Linked DNA regions of Homo sapiens. The protein of the gene in region 1 purifies or fractionates together with the protein of each later gene. This does not show direct contact. Each region holds a gene or a part of one and is shown on either strand. Other genes may lie near its edges. The genes, in order: C16orf74 and PPP3CC.

Region 1 (4,150 bases):
CCTACCCTGAAGCCTCTGAGCTCTTTCTGGCTTTCTAGCCCCTCCCCAGGGATGTGCCCTCAGCAGGGAGCCACCTGCACAGGCCTCCCCCAGCCCAGCAGCTGGGGCAGCAGCTTTGATGGGCACGCCCACCACCCCAGCACCGGCCAGCGGCAGGTCCCATCCTGCCTCCGGAGGGTGGGGACGAATGGAAGGAACGTCCTGCCCCAGGCCTGCCCCTTCTCTTTGTTAGAGGCGGGGGAGTGGGGGACATGATACATTTCCTGCCTGTCAGTCTGGACTCTATAAGGTCAGGGGAACCTAAAGATCGCCCCATTTTTAGGAATGACTCAAGCAGCAGCACACGGCTAGGAAGATGACTCCATTTCCTGCAACTCTTTGCCACATTCACTAAAGGAATGTCACTTTCCTGCTCTGTGACTCAGTTTCCCCTTCTAAGCCTCCAGAAATATATAGGGCAGGGGGTGTGGAGACGTTGGGCTTGTAGGGTGGACAGGGTACCACAGGCTTGTGACAATGACATAGAAAGCACAGGGCAGGCATCTTTCTGTTCCTCCTGCCCCACTGGGCAGGTGTCTGCAGAGGCCTCCACACAGGTAGGGCTGACGGAGGGAGTGTGCCTCCTAAGAAGCTCATCTGGCCAAAAGACCTCTGTGTCCACACCGCGGGGAGCTCTGTGTCCACACCGCGGGGAGGTGGGGGATTCCTCTCCCTGATGCTCATCAAGGTCATCACCAAACACCTGAAGCTGCCCAGGGGGCCAGGAGGCAAGCCCTGACCTCCTTGTAGGCTGCAACCCAGGGTTCGCCCCCGAAGTGGGGTGCAAAGGCTTGCGTGGAGAGCAAAAGGGAACCCCCACAGCTGCAGCCACAGGGAAGGGGCACTGCCTACCAGTCCCTGGGGTCCTGCACAAGGGGAGGGCGGCTGCAGACGGCGAGATGGGGCGGGGGGGCTGTTCTCGCCTCTCCTCTTCGCTTCCGGGCGGCGAGGTCCACTGAACCCGGGCCCCCCAGTATGGGAGGAACCCTGGTGCCCTTTTTCAACACCCAGGGCTGGGGTGCAGGGCCTCAGGGAGCCCGGCACCCAGCCCCGGAGAGGGGCGCACGGTGGGGAGCCCTACGGGCCGCGGCCCAAACTTTCCCCGGGACTGCCCGGGGCCTGGAGGGAGGAAACAGGCAAGCAGCGAGGGGTCGGGACCGCCGCCGAGGGCGCCGGGCGGGTCCTGGCACGCTCCCCAGGGAGGCGACGGGCGGGCCCGCTCCGCCCCGCGCCTGGCCCGTGCAATCCTGGCGCCCGCGGCCCGGCGGCTGCCGTCAGCGCCGCCCTCTAGGAGCGGGGCGGGACCGCGGGAGGCGCGCGGCTGCCCGAGCGCCGGCCGGGCCATGACCCCCGCTGCTCTGTCTTGCAGGCTCGTCGCCGCGGCCCCCCGAGCCCGACCGCCGCCGCCACCACCACCAGCGCCCGGGCGGGCCTCGCGCGCCTCGGGCGCGGCTCCGCAGTGAGCCCACCAAGAAGGAAGCGGTGAGTGCCCCGCGCCTCGTGCCCGCCGCCCCTTCCCCGGGACGCCCGCCTTCCCCGAGCAACGCGGCCCCGGCCGGGCGGCGTCCACGCCTCGCAAGCTCTAGCCGCTGCAGGGGCGCGGCCCGGGGGTCGGTGGGAGACCCACGCGGGCCCGGGCGTCCCCCCAACTTCTTGCAGACTTTGCTGCGGAGACACGGGCTTTGGGAAACTTGGCCCGGCTCTGGCCGCGCTGCAACTTGCACGGCGGTGGGGGTGTGACCCCGCGCGGAAGCCTCTGGCCCCCCACTCACCACAGGCCACCCCGCGCCGTCACGAGTTCCTTGGGAATGGACCAGAACGCCATTCCTGAGAGCTGGAAGGCAGCCCGGCGGGGGGCGGGGGCAGGAGGCCTCCCGAGGAACCATTTCCACTCTATCGAGTATTTCCAAATCTATTATTTATGAACTGCCTCACTTAGGGGCCCCCCTGCGCTCCCAGGGCATCAAAGCAGGTTTGCAACCGCGAAGGGCGACCCGTGTGGACGCACGCGCTCCTTCTCCTGGCTGGCTGCGCTCGAGCGGAACTAGGGGAGGTCTCAGTAAAAAGGGGCACCCGCAGCTCCCCCCAGGGATAGGCGGAGGGCGGGGTCTGAGGGCGGCTGGGACTTCTCTCAGACCGCCTCCGGCTGCGGGGCCCAGATGGAATCAAGGGAAAATCTGTGCAGGCTCGACAGGCTTTGGAGCCCGGAGGAAGAGGGAGGAAGGGAAGGCTGCGAGGCAAAGGCACTTGTGAGGTAGTGCGGTTCTCGGGGAACGAACGCCTCAATGTACAGGTTAGGAAACTGAGGCTCTGAGAGGGATACCCTGAGTCACAGGCTCTGGCGTTTCCTGCCTAGACCCCACCCATCCAACGCTGTGGGGAGGCCCCTGTCCTGGGCTGGGTTAACTCCAAAAAGCACCCTCACCTGTGCAGGCCACGCCCTCCTTGGGTTCTGCGCCCCCACCGCTGGGGACCCGGTCCTGTGGATGGGAGGAGGCCGTGTATTTATGGAAACACTTAATCCCTCACCAGCCCCAAGGAGGCTGAAAGCTCACCACCTAATCTCGTCTCCCTGGAAGCGCCTTCCCATGCCGGTGGGGTGCACCCCAGACCCACGTAGAGTGTATTTTCCCAGCCCAAGGTGCAGGTCACCTCTGGAGACTTGAAATGGGAGCGTGCCGTCAGTGGACACTGAAGAAGAGCGCACTGATAGTTCATGCTTACGGAGCACTCCTCATGCACCAGACCCTGCGTTTTCTGTTTTAATCCCCTGACCAACTCTCCAACCAAATACTGTCAGCCCCATTTTAAAGATGAGGAAACAGGGCCAGGCACAGTGGCTCACGCCTGTGGCTGCAATACTTTGGGATGCCAAAGCAGGAGGAGTGCTTGAGGCCAGGAGTTCGAGACCAGCCTGGGCAACACAGTGAGTCCCCCCAGCTACTAAAAATTTTTTAATGAGCTGGGTGTGGTGCATACCTGTAGTCCCAGCTACTTAGGAGGCTGAGACGGGAGGTTTCCTTGAGCCCAAGAAGTTGAGGCTACAGTGAGCTATGATCACGCCACTGCATTCCAGCCTGGGCAACAGAGGGAGACCCTGTCTCTTAAAAAAATAATAATAAATTAAAAAATAAAAATGAGGAAACAGAAGCTTGTAAAGGCAAAGTCACTGACACAAGGTTACATGGCTGGAAAATGGCAAGGCCAGGCCTGGAACCCTGAGCCGTGGTACTGAATTGCTCTTACCTGCAGTGGAAGCCAGGCTAGGCCTCTGGGCCTGCTAAGTATAATCCCCCATCATTAAAAAGATTAGTAAGTGATGATGGGGCCCAGGCACAGTGGCTCACACCTGTGATCCCAGTGCTTTGGGAGGGTGAGGCACGAGCATCACCTGAGGCCAGGAGTTTGAGACCAACCTGAGCAACATAGTGAGACTCCTTTCTCTAAAAAAAAATAAAATAAAAAAAAAAAAAAAAAAAAAATCAAAGCCTCCCAATCATCTGAATGGACCACTCCCCTTGGCTAAGGGCATTCCAGAGTTAACCTGCAAAGCTAGTTCAGGCCATGATGAGAAGTGGGGTCAGACATGCCTCATTATACTCTCTTGCCTTTTGAAATTGAGACCCCGCAGACCAGCATTAACATCAGTGCAGACCTTCAGACTAATAGGACAGTCCCTTTAAGTCTGATAAGAAACATGTACAATCTGTTCTCTCTCAAGCCAAACTCCTTATCGTAACCCAGACATTCCTTTCTATGGATTCCAGGTCTTTAGATAATAACTCTTTTGGGTTTTTTTGTTGTTTTTTCTTGAGACAGTCTTGCTCTGTCACCCAGGCTGGAGTGCAGTGGCGTGATCTCGGCTCACTGCAACCTCCGCCTCCCAGGCTCAAGTGATTCTCCTGCCTCAGCATCCTGAGTAGCTGGGATTACAGGTGCGTGCCACCATGCCCGGCTAATTTTTGTATTTTTAGTAGAGATGGGGTTTCGCCCTGTTGGTCAGGCTGGCCTCAAACTCCTGACCTCGTGATCCACTCACCTCAGCCTCCCAAATTGCTGGAATTACAGGCGTGAGCCACTGCACCCAGCCCAGATAATAACTCTCTCAACC
Region 2 (4,022 bases), on another chromosome or scaffold:
AGATGATTATTTTGGATTCTTTGTCATGCAATTCATACATCTCTATTTATTTAGGGCCAGTTACTAGAGGTTTATTAGTTTCCTTTGGTGGTGTCATTTTTGCCTGGTTCTTTATAATTCATATAGCCTTGCAATGGAGTCTATGCATTTGAAGGAGCAGGGGCCTTCCAGTTTTTATGGACTCGTTCGCCAAGTAAATACCTTCTCCTATTGAGTCCCTGGGTTGATGGGATTGCCTGTGGTATTGTGATTAAGCAGGGCTGAAGCTAGATTATGGGGCTACATTAGGGTTCACAGTCAGTGGGCGTACCACTAGGGGCATGGACAAGTATGTCCCATGGATGGGGAGAGCTGTCTCTGGAACTCAATAGGGTGGGACCCAAGCTGGGTCCCAGGCTGGTTTGGGTTTATGTTTGGGTCCAATCAGCAGCCCTTTTACCAGAGGAATGGACAGGCATGATTTCCACAAGGCCCCTGTTAAGGCAGGACTTCCTCTTGGCCACAGTAGAGCAGGGCTGGAGCCAGGTCAGAGTGCTGCTTTGAGTCTGCAGTTGGGTCTGGTTGGTGGATCTGTTACTAGGGGCATCAACAGACATGGTTCCTTCCCAGGATGGATGAGGCTGGTGGTAGGACTGCAGACAAGTGGGACTGGAGCCGGGTTTACAAGGGACAGGCTGATTCTGGGTCTGTAGCTGAAAGGTCAGTGGGCCTGCCTTCTCCAAGCAGCCCTTCCTAGTCTTGGGCTCCACCAAGGTTTCATAACCACCTACCTCAATCCTAAGGTTCTTACAATGGCACTTATGGCCATGGATGGCTTCCAAACTATTGTTTCTGTAGGAGGACCAGGGCTGGGGACATTCTCTTTTGCTATCTTGCTTACGTCACCTACAACCTACTTTAAAAGTAAATTTGTTCTAATGAGCATAATGAGAAACAAAGATTTTAAAAATAAACTAAATAATTAATGCCTAAGTAATTCCAGGTTAATTTTGTATACTCCAGTTCTTCCTATCAGGTATTTGTCATTCAGAGAGGTAATAGTATGAAAAGAATATTTTAGGAGTATATGAGAATATTGTATCTTTTTTTAGAATATGGTTGGCTAAAATATTTACATCTGCTCCTAAAATATTCCTGCATAAGCTTGCAGTGAGCCGAGATTGCACCACTGCACTCCAGCCTGGGCGACAGAGCAAGACTCCGTCTCAAAAAAAAAAACAAACCTATATATATACATATATATGTATATATGTATTCCTGCATAATATTATCTTGGTGTTTATATTACCTGTGAAGCTGTAAGTATATTCTTTTATTTCTGTAACAATTTGACAATTGAAGAAAAGTATGTGTTGAATTTTTAGCATCTACTACACACACACGCACACACACACACACACACACACTACTGTTGTACTTTGTAATATCAAGACACTGATAAAAGTTTTGGTGTTGTATTGTTATGGATTAAGACAAAAAAATTAAAAGATGAGATGGAGGAGCTCTTTCTATTGTAGGATTATCTATTGTTTTCATGTTTGATCTGTAGTGAAGTATATTAGTGAAATAGAGAAACAGAATGATGAGTACTAAGCTATTCATAAAATTTCAGTAGTGTGTAATACTTGTAGTTTTGAAACAAAATCAGCTAATATCACCTTGACTTTTCCCCATCTTCCTATTAAAAAAAATTGTTTTAATTCTGGATTTATGTTTTCTAATTTTCTTTTCCAGTTACCCTGCAGTTTGTGAATTTTTGCAGAACAATAATTTACTATCAATTATCAGAGCCCATGAAGCCCAAGATGCTGGGTAAGTTACATTAAAATTGTACCAAATATCGCTGCAGAGTCTTTGCATTTAATATGCAGACAGATGGACTTTCATCTCTTTTTCAGGTATCGAATGTACAGGAAGAGCCAAGCCACAGGCTTTCCATCACTTATTACAATTTTCTCTGCCCCCAATTACCTAGATGTCTATAACAATAAAGGTAAAGGAATCCAGCAATATTTGAGTTTGAATTTATGAGTAAACGTGAGCTCTGGTTTAATTGTATGTACGTATGTGTGTTTGTGTCATTTTAAAACATAAATTTTAAATAAGAAAAAAAGGGGTCTTAGTTGAAACAAAGGCCAAGAAATTTAGAATTTATGCTGCTGCTTGGTCTTTATCTCCTAAGGATTACTGGCTTCTTTGTGAGTATAAATAATGATCATAATAGGTCAGATTGATACTACAGAATCAAAGTATAAGAAGAATAAATTGCTTCAGGCTCATGCCAGAATAGTTAGCATAAATTATTGGTTTTGGTGAATTTAATGTGTTTATAACAGTATCTCAAAGTCACCATTGGTATTTTAATCTTTGTGAATTATTAAACTATTTTTGTTTTTCTTGAGATATGGTCTAGGTAGAGTGACCTAGTGTACAAAGTCAAAAAAAAACCTTCATTTTTAGTTTAAACCCTGCCAGAAACGAATACTGTGACTTTGAGTGAGTCACATTATCTTTCTAATCTTCAGTTTCCCATATGAAAAAAGAAGAATGGATATATACATGCCTTTTGTTCCAGAAATTTTACTTCTAAGACTTTATCCTGTTAAAGTCTTTTTTTTAATTTAAAACTTTTATGATTAATAGTTTATAAGTTTTCTATCGAGGCAGTGGTCCTACTAAAAACTTCATATTTCTGTAACTATTTTGTTGTTTATAAAGTATGACTATAAATTAATAGGACTTTGAAAATAAACATGCCAGAACAAACATATCCAAATGAGTATTGTCCCTTCAAAGTAGTTACCTTGGGAGGCTACACACCTATTCCAACAATGCTGTCCTTGTTCAAAAACATTTTTGGAACTCCTCTTTTGGCATTGCCTTCAGAGTCTGCGACACATTCTTTTGATTATCCTCAATGATGGGAAATCTTCGTCCTTTGAGGGTGGATTTGATTTTTGGACAGCCAAAAGTCATTCGGAGTCAAGACTGATAAATAAGGTGAGTGATCAAGCTAGATGATACCATTTGGGGTCAGAAACAAGGTATGATTATAAGGTAATGAGACTGGTTTTTCTCGTGTTGCTGATACAGTGGCTCTGGAGGCACTTCCAAAAGAGGAGTTCCAAAAACGTTTTGAGTAATGGCAGCATCTCTGGATTAATTATATGGTAAGGCAACAAGTTGTGCTGAAAAGAACACAAAGCAAGGAGTCAGTCTAGTCCTGCTTCACTTTTAAGTGTGTCACATTTAACAAGATACTTCTCTGAGCCTCATCTTTAAAATATCTGTCATATGGGGTTGTTGAAGATAAGTTGGAATAAGGAAAATGGATATTAAAGTGTTGTTCAAAATATAAATTACTATAATAATACAGATTTTACTGTTATTGTACCTGATGTGATAATATCAAAGGACCACACTCATCTGATAAAAAGGTCTGGTGTGTTTGTAGCTGGTGGTTTCTTAAGTCTCATTACTTTATAGTTATACCTTGTATATGCAGTTGGGGAGATAAGTTTCAAAGATGGCCAAAATATAATTAATATTTACTCTATTTAAAAGTAAACCATGGAATGGCACATCTCATTTAAATCCGATTTGGGTCAGTCATTTTAGTGTGTCCTCCAGTGACTTGTCTATTTTAAAAAGCATGTCTTTAACTTAAGTTCTGTCCTAGTCTTATGTTTTCATTTAACTTAGCATTCTTCTCTGAGCCTTATCTGTCCTACAATGCTCTGCTTCTCCCTAAGTTCATTTGTTATTTCCTTTTTCCTGATATTTCCAGTATATTAGCAACTTAGGTTTTATTCTTATTTATTCTCTTATCAATGGTGTGGACTGTTTGTGTTGTTAAACGTCTTCAAGGACTCTTGTGGCCCTAGATCTCCTATTTGTAATGAAGGTGTTTCTTTCTCACTTTCTTTTTTAACTTCATCAAAAAGAGTATCTATTGATTGCTCAATGGATTTATCAGTGTGCCAAGCTGAAACACGCCACCTAAGTCAGCAGGCACTATACAG

The links.
Region 2: the proteins of C16orf74 (region 1) and PPP3CC purify together in Homo sapiens (affinity purification with mass spectrometry; one large-scale study listed by BioGRID and IntAct). This does not show direct contact.

The regions. Positions count from the first base shown.
Region 1 is NC_000016.10:85,748,297-85,752,446, reverse strand, and holds the start of C16orf74 (uncharacterized protein C16orf74), read left to right. Parts: upstream 1-1,350; 5' UTR 1,351-1,521; intron 1,522-4,150.
Region 2 is NC_000008.11:22,520,757-22,524,778, forward strand, and holds part of PPP3CC (serine/threonine-protein phosphatase 2B catalytic subunit gamma isoform), read left to right. Parts: intron 1-1,734; coding exon 1,735-1,812; intron 1,813-1,898; coding exon 1,899-1,993; intron 1,994-2,886; exon of another isoform or gene 2,887-3,000; intron 3,001-4,022. UniProt on the Homo sapiens protein: Calcium-dependent, calmodulin-stimulated protein phosphatase which plays an essential role in the transduction of intracellular Ca(2+)-mediated signals. Dephosphorylates and activates transcription factor NFATC1.